Homo sapiens: one gene and its partners. The protein of the gene in region 1 interacts with the protein of each later gene in a biochemical or structural test. Each region holds a gene or a part of one and is shown in the gene's direction. Other genes may lie near its edges. The genes, in order: SRPK1, ARK2N and TCEAL2.

Evidence for each region.
Region 2: of the proteins of SRPK1 (region 1) and ARK2N, one has a biochemical effect on the other in vitro, tested with the Homo sapiens proteins (one large-scale study listed by BioGRID and IntAct).
Region 3: of the proteins of SRPK1 (region 1) and TCEAL2, one has a biochemical effect on the other in vitro, tested with the Homo sapiens proteins (one large-scale study listed by IntAct).

Annotation. Positions count from the first base shown.
Region 1 is NC_000006.12:35,872,599-35,876,098, reverse strand, and holds part of SRPK1 (SRSF protein kinase 1), read left to right. Parts: intron 1-1,759; coding exon 1,760-1,866; intron 1,867-3,370; coding exon 3,371-3,500. UniProt on the Homo sapiens protein: Serine/arginine-rich protein-specific kinase which specifically phosphorylates its substrates at serine residues located in regions rich in arginine/serine dipeptides, known as RS domains and is involved in the phosphorylation of SR splicing factors and the regulation of splicing.
Region 2 is NC_000018.10:46,243,437-46,247,163, forward strand, and holds part of ARK2N (protein ARK2N), read left to right. Parts: intron 1-3,727. UniProt on the Homo sapiens protein: AMPK substrate important for exercise capacity and skeletal muscle function.
Region 3 is NC_000023.11:102,124,087-102,127,913, forward strand, and holds TCEAL2 (transcription elongation factor A protein-like 2), read left to right. Parts: upstream 1-1,592; 5' UTR 1,593-1,720; intron 1,721-2,286; 5' UTR 2,287-2,359; intron 2,360-2,717; 5' UTR 2,718-2,744; coding exon 2,745-3,428; 3' UTR 3,429-3,626; downstream 3,627-3,827. UniProt on the Homo sapiens protein: May be involved in transcriptional regulation.

The DNA of each region.
Region 1 (3,500 bases):
TTTTTTTTTTTTTAATTTAAGAATCCAGGCTAGTTGTTTTATGCCACCTTAGTTTGGATTTGTTTGATTGTTTCCTCATGATTAAATTCAGGTTAACCGTGTTTGTCAAGCATAGTACATGGATTATTGCATTAGAATATGCATTCGAATGCATATTAGTATATTGCATTAGAAGGCACATGGTGTGAATTTGTGCTTATCATTGGTGGTAGTAAGTTTGATCACTTGGTTAAGGCAGTGCCTTCCAGATTTCCCAGTTGTAAAGGTACTTTGTTCTTTTTGTAATTAATAAGCAATCTGTGGAATGATATTTTGACACTGTGACAATCCTTTTTCCCGACAGTCTTTCACATAGTTGTTTTAGTATTCACTGATTCTTACCTGAATCAGTAATAGTATACTATAGTGATTGTAAAAATGGTGATTTTCTATTTCTGTAATCCCTTATGTATTTATTATTTGGCTTTCTTCTCTAAAGAAGATGTTTCTCTTCCTCCTGCCTCCACACTTACTTTCAGATCAGTGTGGACTTGTTCTGTTTTTAATTCATATATTAACTCATAATTTTATCCTTTATAGTGGTCTGGCCGGGCGCAGTGGCTCACGCTTGTAATCCCAGCACTTTGGGAGGCCAAGGCAGGTAGATTATGAGGTCAGGAGTTCAAGACCAGCCTGGCCAATATGGTGAAACCCCATCTGTACTAAAAATACAAAAATTAGCCCAGCGTGGTGGTACACACCTGTAGTGCCGAGAGGCAGAGGTTGCAGTGAGCTGAGATAGTGCCACTGCACTCCAGCCTGGGCAACAGAGCCAAGACTCTGTCTCAAAAAAAAAAAAAAAAAAGAAGTCTCCATGTTGGCTGGTGACATCCTTTTCAAGATGGTTCCTGTTTCTTCCTGACAGGTTCTTTTATTTGTTAGAACAGCAAGGTGTTCCAAGTTTACCCTGTTATTTTTCCTACCTTGGATTTGGCCATTTTTCCAAGGAGCTCAGGCTTTCCTTTAATGGAGAATGTTAAAGTCTGAGCACTAGACCATTACTATATATGTATGTCTTAACTTGCATGTAGAAGCCAGTGGGGGTGGAAGACATCAAGATACTACTAAAATCTCTGTAGTGCCCTGCACAATTTTAGACTCAGAGTATTCCTGCTGTGTGGTGTCATCAGGTTGTTCATACATAAGGACAACACATGGTGGCACTGGAATCAAGATTAGTTTTGTAAAATACAGAGCATTAAGCAAGTTTCCTATTTAAAAAAAAATGTTGGCATTTACGTTTTTGAGGTTTAAGTCTTTCTTGTACATTCATCTCTTCTATAGTTAAGGAATAATTTGTTTTTCCTTGCTTTGAAGCTGTGAGAGTGGGAATTTTTACCCTGGACACCAATTTTGATATTAGGGAAGAAACTAATTTACCTGAAGCTAATCAACAGCTTGAGGCTTGAGCCTACTGCTTTCTTTCACTATTTGCATATGTAGGTTTCACTTTTTCTTTTACCATTGAGTATTTTAATGTACATAATAATATTGATGAAGCCAGCCGCCCACAATTTAATGTTTCATGAATGCTTTCATTGACTATAGCATTAGACTTTGAAATTTTAGAATATTAACAGCTACATATTTATTCATTCAAGCTCTGTAACTTTTTATACTGAAAGAAAATAATACATAACATTTAATAGGGTGGAATTCACAGCTTGTCTTGCCGTGTTCTTCTTTTGTGCCGTTTTTTCCCTCCTTAATGAATTCCTAGATATCTGCATGGTATTTGAAGTTTTGGGGCATCATCTGCTCAAGTGGATCATCAAATCCAATTATCAGGGGCTTCCACTGCCTTGTGTCAAAAAAATTATTCAGCAAGTATGTATCTTGAATCAGCAAGTATCTTAGTCTTGACTATGTAGTGATTTTTTAATATTCTTGAAGTGTCAGGACTTTATTTTTTCCAATAGAATTTTTGTTTTAAGGCCGGGTGTGGTGGCTCATTCCTGTAATCCCAGCACTTTGGGAGGCCGAGGCGGGCAGATCACGAGGTCAGGAGATCAAGACCATCCTGGCTAACATGGTGAAACCTCCTCTCTACTCAAAATACAAAAAGTTAGCCGGGTGTCTTGGCAGGCACCTGTAGTCCCAAGCTACTCGGGAGGCTGAGGCAGGAGAATGGCGTGAACCCAGGAGGCGGAGCTTGCGGTGAGCCGAGATCACACCACTGCACTCCAGCCTGGGCGACAGAGCGAGACTCCGTCTCAAAAAAAAAAAAGAATTTTTGTTTTAAAATTCTTTGTTTTAAAAAGTAAGTTATTGGCTGGGCGCGGTGGCTCACGCCTGTAATCCCAGCACTTTGGGAGGCCGAGGCGGGCAGATCACCTGAGGTCAGGAGCTCGAGACCAGCCTGGCCAACAGTGCGAAACCCCGTCTCTACTAAAAATACAAAAATTAGCCGGGTGTGGTGGTAAGCGCCTATAATCCCAGCTACTCGGCAGGCTGAGGCAGGAGAATCGCTTGAACCCGGGAGGCGGAGGTTGCAGTGAGCTGAGATCGCGCCACCGCGCTCCAGCCTGGGCGACAGAGCAAGACTCCATCTCAAAAAAAAAAAAAAAGTTAATTGCTAAAATTAAATATTTCATTCAACCTTTAGAATTTATTGTGCTTATTCTCTTTTTAAATGTTTTAGCATAACCATTTTCCCCCAGGTTTGCCTCCTATAATAATTAGAAAGGGAAGCTGAGGTTCCTGACTTGGGAACATTGGAGCCCTTATCCAGAAGTTCTGGTTGCAAATAGTAATTTTACATGAATAGATAATTGCTATGTCAGATTATTGCCATCTCTTTATACAGCATGATTCATAGGCATTTTCTAATTTTCTAAAGAGCCTTCAATATACAGTATAGATTTTACCATCAGGAAAATATTAATACTTCAAGGTGCAAAAATTTGTTTGGATTATATGTCCTGGAAAGAGCTCCAAACTGGGCAGCAAGAGACCTCAATTCTTCCTCAGTGAGGAAATTTGAATTAAAGATATCTAAATGTCTGTCAGCACCTACATTACAACACTTAGAGGGTGTGTGTGTGTTGAAGTTTATTCTCAGTCTTTGCATTGTACATAGTTGAAGAATATCTCCAAATAGAATCAGCTTTGTAAAACATTGAAGAATTTTTTATTGTAAATAATTTCTTGCCTTTTTCATAGTTTAATCTTTCTGAGAAAGTTTATTTGTGCTTTTTTAAAAGGTGCTTTTATTCTCTATAGAAAACGCTATCATATCTTTTTTTTTTTTTTAATGTCATGTTATAATCTCTTACTTCTCCAGAAAGCCTGTATTTTGTGTTTGCAAGTCTGCCACTCTATTTCCATTCAGGTGTTACAGGGTCTTGATTATTTACATACCAAGTGCCGTATCATCCACACTGACATTAAACCAGAGAACATCTTATTGTCAGTGAATGAGCAGTACATTCGGAGGCTGGCTGCAGAAGCAACAGAATGGC
Region 2 (3,727 bases), on another chromosome or scaffold:
CCCATCCCATTTAGGATCACATAGGTACGCACTAAAGATAGAGTAGGTTGCCTTTTTCCAAGCAATTAGATGATTATCTTGCATCCAAAATATATATTTAGTTTTAGTTTTAACCTAGGCAAAAGACTTGAACCACATGCAGGGATTAAAAAGTAAGTCGAAATTAGAGAAGCTACTGATCAACAAAAGACCTGAATTTTCCATTTCAATTCTTGCCATGTGTTTGCTTTTTTTAAGTTGATGCTGGAATTGAACACTGTAGTGGGTGATTTTGAACCAGTGGCCACTTAGAAACTGCATGTCCTCAGGTAAATTATATAAAGCCTCAGTTTTCCCTATCTACAAAACTGGGGCACAACCTTTATAGTATCTACTCCAAAAGGTTATTGTTACCACTAAGTGAAATACAGTGTGTTTACTACGGAGGACAGCACATAGTAGGCCCTCAGAAATGCTAACCAGCATTATGTTAATATGCTGAAGTAGACTGAGTAAGGAAGTGATTAGTGGCTCAGTCACTGGATTTCTAATTACTCTCTTGCACTGCAACGAGTTGCTCTTGCTACAAGTACTTCTTAAATTTTGCCAGAGCGTAGAAATTACCCAGTGTGTTTATAAATATTCACACTCCTAGGTTTCTCCTGATGATTCTGTCAATAAATCTGAAATGGTTTCTGGGAATCTCTTTTTAATAATAGCCTCAGGTAACTCTTGTATCCAGCATGTTTAGGAAACTGTATTAATATATCTGAAAATGGCTTCATTTTTGTTGCTAGTAAGGGCTCACTGCAAACAAATGTAGTTGGGGCAAGAAGAAGCAGAAGTCTTGGTGAGGAAGGCTTATAGCTGTGGTAAACTGAACTTATTTAGGATTTTTTTCCCTGGGAAGTTAAAACTTTAAATACCTTATCTTTTCCATCAGCCTTCTTGTCAAGAAGGTAGGTTCTGAGCATTTTCCCCATCCTTACAATAGGGATGGTAATCTTGATTTGTCCCTAACATGGTGGCAGTACAGAGAAATGAATCCTGGGTTTCCTGTTCCTAGTGTAGGGTTTTTAATAATTAGACCAGAATGGCCATGTTTCAGAATCAGTATAGTGAAGGAGATGAAGTATGGTCATGTTCTTCATGTTTATCTGCATCAAATTGATGGTAAGAGTTTAGATTTTTTTTTTTTTTTTTTTTTAAGAGGGAGTCTCCAGTCACCCAGGCTGGAGTACAATGGCACATTCTGGGCTCACTGCAACCTCTGCCTCCCGGGTTCAAGTAATTTTCGTGCCTCAGCCTCACAAGTAGCTGGGATTACAGGTGTGTGCCACTGCGCCTGGCTAATTTTTGTATTTTTAGTAGAGACAGGGTTTACCATGTTGGCCAGACTGGTCTCGAATTCCTGACCTCCAGTGATCCGCCTGTCTTGGCCTCCCGAAGTGCTAAGATTACAGGCATGAGCCACCACACCCAGCCAGATTTTAGATTTTTGAGCTCTTCCTTCACTCTTTTTTGTTGTTGTTGTTGGAGATGGATTCCAGCTCTGTCGCTCAGGCTGGATGCGGTGGCAGTCTCCGCTCATTGCAGCATCTGCCTCCTCGTTCAAGTGATTCTCCTGCCTCAGCCTATCCAGTAGCTGGGATTACAGGTACCCGTCACCACGCCCCGTTAATTTTTTTATATTTTTAGTAGAGATGGGGTTTCACCATGATGGCCAGGCTGGTCTTGCCCTCCTGATCTCAAGTAATCTGCCCACTTCTGCATCTCAAAGTGCTGGAATTTCAGGCGTGAGCTACCATGTCCAGCCCTCTTCCTTCACTTTTTAAGGTTGTTTAACGTGCTGTTTAAGGAACTAAAAGTAGGCTGGGTGCTGTGGCTCACGCCTATAATCCTGGCATTTTGGGAGTCCGAGGTGGGCAGATCACGAGGTCAGGAGTTCGAGACCAGCCTGTCCAATATGGTGAAACCCCATCTATACTAAAAAAAATACAAAAATTAGCTGGGCACGGTGGCGTGGGCTCCTGTAGTCGCAGCTACTTGGGAGGCTGAGGCAGGAGAATTGCTTGATCCCGGCAGGTGGAGGTTGCAGTGAGCCGAGATTGCACCACCTCTCTCCAGCCTGGGTGACAGAGTGAGACTCTGTCTCAATAAAAAAAAAAAAAAAGAAAGAAAAAAAGAACTAAAAGTAGTAATTTGCTGTTTTTAAAGCTAAATGAGTAGTGACTTATTTTTTTATTTTTTTTATGCCTAGCATGCGACTGTCATACAGTATGTAGTATTACTTTCTCTTCAGTGTGTTGCAAAGCTCAGGCCTAGTTCTTACCCAGTGGATTTACAGTTTAAAAAGTAGCTGGATTATTTCCTTTAAAGACAGAAAGAAACTGTTTTCCATGATAATTTAGTTACTACTTTTTCTGTGCTTCTTTTTCTTACCCTATTTTGATAACTACCTTTTCTTGGTAACTTTTTCTTACCCTTTCTTGTTGAAAAGGTCTGTAGTGGGAGGACAAAATTTAGAATTTTCTCATATAGTGAAAGAAGTTATCTTTCCAAAGACCTACACAGGCAGAGACCTACACAGAGACAGCCAGCTGTCACAATAGCTAAATATAAGTGCTCTGCTTTATTTTCAGTTTAATATATGGTAATTGCGGTATTTACATTTTTCTCTACAGGGCTTGTTCTTGTCTTAGAACTGGAAAAGATTACTACCACTGACAGTATTTGAAGAACCTCATAGCATCTTTGGCTCACTTTTCTGTATGCTTTAGGCACTGTTCTGCCATTGGAATCCTGTGAAGTCCTCCATGGGGGGTGAGGCGGGGTGGGGAGGGGCAGAGCAGAAAAGGCCCAAAGGCCAGAGAATGTCAGGTTCTATACTGGAGCTCCCAAAGGAATGTGTGGGATGCTGAAGAGGGTTACAGTGACAGAAAAGGACTAATGGTCCTGGCTCTGAAATAGAAGAAGGAAGAGGCAGAGGCATCCCAGAATGCCTTTGGTGTCTCTTGTAGAGCACGGCATCTCATTGCCTTGGTGTGGGTCCTAGCTGATTTGTTTTCTGTGTGGCACAATTTATCTAAGGCTCTGACAGGAAATTTGGCAAATGTCTCACACTATTAGTCTAGGAGTTGTTAACATTCACGAGGCAGTCTGTATTTAGCACCCCCATCACTTTCTCATGCCTCTTATCTTGCACTAGTATATTGACCAAGCATTACAGATAAGAGCAGACCCTAGGCTAGGCGCGGAGGCTCACACCTGTAATCCCAGCACTTTGGGAGGCCGAGGCGGGTAGATTACCTGAGGTCAGGAGTTCGAGACCAGCCTTACCAACATGGCCAAACCCCGTCTCTACTAAAATACAAAATTAGCCTGGCGTGGTGGTGCATGCCTGTAATCCCACCTACTCAGGAGGCTGAGGTGGGAGAATCGCTTGAACCCGGGAGGTGGAGGTTGCAGTGAGCTGAGATCACATCTTTGCACTCCAGCCTGAGCAACAAGAGCAAAACTCCATTTCAAAAAAAAAAAAAAAAATAGCAGACCCCAATTTAAAGTGACCAGTTTTAGCATATCATCTGGGTTTTGTAACCATGTTAAATACCAGCAGGTTTGGATTGCAATTTTTATGGCAAAAATTGCACTACCAGAATTGTTTGGATTATCTAACAATGTGGAAGGAATATTACTAGTTTCTAGATCCATAATGAATGAATAAAGTTAGAAGAATCTGAAATATTGG
Region 3 (3,827 bases), on another chromosome or scaffold:
GTATATGTTTTAAAAGAGGAGAAATAGTTGTTAATACTTTGGCTCCATTAGCAAAATAACTTAGCAAATAGTTACTGAAGACAGCTTAAAATCACTATAATTAGATGATTAAAACAGAAAATCAGTTCTTTTCAACTGATTTGATATTATTTTCATCAAATTCTTGAATAATTATAATAATTTTATGGAAGTTTATACTGATGAAATTGAAACACCTAGCCTCGATAATTCAGGAAAAAAATTCAACATTGAGGACAGAATTATTGGTGATGTGGTGATAATGACGAATACACATATTGATAGAGCAAAATACTGTAGGAAGATCAAGGTTTTACTAAATGAAGAAAGATGTGTAGCAGAAATATAATCAGAATTGCTTGTGTAACACACATAATTCATAATCCTGTAATCATGATAAGGTATTTTGCAAATCAAAATAAAAATAGTTGTTGCCCAGATATACACAAGACATACACATACATATGTACACACATATACATCTATACATATATGTGTGTATAAATAAACATGTGTATATATACATATACATGTCACTATACTGTAGAAGCTAAAATATTGGTGATTCTTAGTTTTTGTGGGTGGTGGCTTCACGAATGTGAAAGAAAAGGAAAGAAAAAAAAGACAAAGGATGGGAAGGGGAGGAAATAATAGGACGGGAAAGAAAAGGGAAGGAAGAGGGACAAGCAGGGATCGATGATAAGGGTGTGTTGTAAACCAAGGACTATGATGAATTTGTGCATCTGAAATTCATATTTAAAATGTTTTAATGCTTTCTTTTCTACCTGTCTGACATTCTCTCTCTATGAAAACTGATCAAATGTTGGAAGGTAAGTTTCAAGTGTGGAGAGAGACCAAGGGAGATGGCAAGAAGGAAGTTGGTAAATCAATTTGGGGTACACGGGCTTTGGGGTCCCTCAGGGACACTCAGGCGGTGATGTCCAATAGACAGTTGGCAAAGCTGATATGAGACACGGAGAAGGGAACAGCCTGGAGCTGTAGATCTGGGAGTCATCGGTGTTTACTGGAAATGAATGAGATCACACAGGGAGAGACAACTTGAGGACTGAGGAGAGAGGAGGCCCAGGACAGAACCCCAGGAACACCGCCACTCAAGGTGGCAGCTCAGCTTCCTGGCAGGCACCACTACCCCCCGGGCTCTGGAGTCAGGCAGAGCCGGTATTGAAAGTGGGCTGTGGAGTTCTGGGGCTGAGCGCTCTTGGCAAAGTCCGGTACCTCTATGATCAGCTGTCACACCTGGCGATAATGGGCATCAGAGAGATATGCCTTGCGAGGATGCTGTGAGCTGCGTCAGGTAAAGCACCTAGGGTCAGAAAGCCACCTCTCCTCCTCTTCTCCGCGACCCCACTTTGCTACACAAACGCACCGAGACTCCGACCGTCCCCAGCCTCCGGTCCCTCAGGGATGGAAGGTGAGGTATGTCAGGAAAGAGAGGGGGGCCCAGCTCCAAGGTGAGGTGTGTCAGGCAAGAGCGGGGGCAGAGCTCCGGTGACGCGGTGCTCACGTGACCCGCCCGGCGCCTACGTGGGCACCAGCCCCCGCGCCCGCCCGCCAGCCCGCCCAGCGGTCGGGTCCGGGCGCCCGCGCAGAATCAGCTGTCTGAGCTGCCCAGGCGGCGGGGGAGCAGCGAGCGGGCTTCAGCGAGCCGCAGGAGGCACAGGCCTGTCCTGGGTCCCCGCAGGTCAGTGTGAAGGCGTGCGCTGCCGGCGGACCCTGGGACAGGGGTGGAGGGGGCTGGCAGTAGGATTGGGGAGGGGGCGGAGAAGGGATCCGGTAGATTGGGGAGGAGGGGGATGCGGAGTCGCGGGGGCGGGGGCAGTGGAGGGAGAACCCCCGAAGCAAGCCTGGCTCGCCTTCTCGACGCCCCCTTGCACTGAGTCCTCCATCCATTTTAGTGCTGGAAATGGGGGGTGGGGGTAGCGACCCCGCAGTGCGACAGTGAAACGTAGACATATTCTGGAAATAACCCCTTCTCACAATCTACACCCATGGAAACACTTGATCTCCGCAAAAATGAGGTGGCGCTGGGGCAGGTTGCCTCCGGGGAAGGGGGACACAGAGACAAACGCAGTTTGGAAAGCATCCTGGTTTGGTGCCCGAGGCCTGGAAAGAAATGGCGGCTGGGGTGCGGGGGAGGTAGGGGAGGAAAACGGTGGGTAAGCAGGGCCTGGACTCAGGAAAGGGAACCGAGTCCCTGTGAGCCCGCTAAGCGCGCAGCCCCTGCCCCTGTCTCCTGTCTGTCCGCAGGTCTGCGCGTCTGTTGTTCCCAGCGCTCTGAGAGGCCTGAAAAGGAAGAGCAACCTGTCCAGAATCCCCGCAGGTCCGTGAAAGCAGGGGGCTGCATGGACAGGGGCCCACAAGGGTTGAGAGTGTGGAGGGCACAGTCAGGGCCGAATTGGGGCCCCTGCCCATCCCCTTACCTACATGAACACACACCTTACCAGGCTGAACCAGTGCAGAGAAGGTGGCAGGGCCTGCCAGGGAACAGCTGGCTCACGTGTGTGGGAGGAGTGGTGGGCTACGTGGTGGGCAGAAGGCCCTCTTGGAGGCCCAGTCAGCTTAGGGGAACCCTCACCAGGGGTGAGATGCAAGTAGTATCCAGACCTGCATTCCACCCCATGCCCTCAGTCTCCCATGTCTCCTCTTTGTCTCCTCTTCCCTCCACACCCATCCCCCAGGAAAGGAAAAGGAGGGGAAATCTCGACATGGAAAAACTCTTCAATGAAAATGAAGGAATGCCTTCGAATCAAGGAAAGATAGACAATGAAGAACAGCCACCGCACGAGGGAAAGCCAGAAGTAGCTTGTATTCTGGAAGACAAGAAGTTAGAAAACGAGGGAAACACAGAAAACACGGGCAAGAGAGTTGAGGAACCGTTAAAGGATAAAGAAAAGCCAGAGAGTGCGGGAAAGGCAAAAGGAGAAGGAAAGTCAGAGAGGAAGGGAAAGTCAGAGATGCAGGGAGGATCAAAGACAGAGGGAAAGCCAGAGAGAGGGGGAAGGGCAGAGGGTGAAGGAGAGCCAGACAGTGAAAGAGAGCCAGAGAGTGAGGGAGAGCCAGAAAGTGAAACAAGGGCTGCAGGAAAGCGCCCAGCTGAGGATGATATACCCAGGAAAGCCAAAAGAAAAACCAACAAGGGGCTGGCTCAGTACCTCAAGCAATATAAGGAAGCCATACATGATATGAATTTCAGCAATGAGGACATGATAAGAGAATTTGACAACATGGCTAGGGTGGAGGATAAAAGGAGAAAAAGCAAACAGAAATTGGGGGCGTTTTTGTGGATGCAAAGAAATTTACAGGACCCCTTCTATCCTAGGGGTCCAAGGGAATTCAGGGGTGGCTGCAGGGCCCCACGAAGGGACACTGAAGACATTCCTTATGTGTAGTGTCCCTGGCAGGCATTTGTCAGGCCATATGTTTTAACCTTATGGTAATACTTTGCTTTAGTCGTTCCTCCTGCTACCAGTAGCGTTTTGACCCACCTGCCAGTGTTTGCTTGCTCTATGTTTCAGTAGCAGATTTTCACACATGTGCATTGCAGAGACGTCATGATTCGTGGAAAAATAAAGCAGCTTATAATATCATCTACAGAATCTGTCTGTTTTTGTTAAATACATGAAAGGTTAACAGTGGTTTTCTGAGTTGTGAGCTAGCAGGTGATTTCATTTCTTTGTTTTCTTTCTACTAATCTTTCTTTTCCCAGAGAACACAAATTACTTTTCTCACAAAAATAATAAAATATTTTTAAAAAATCAGAACAGTATGTAAAAAGCAAAGAGAATAAC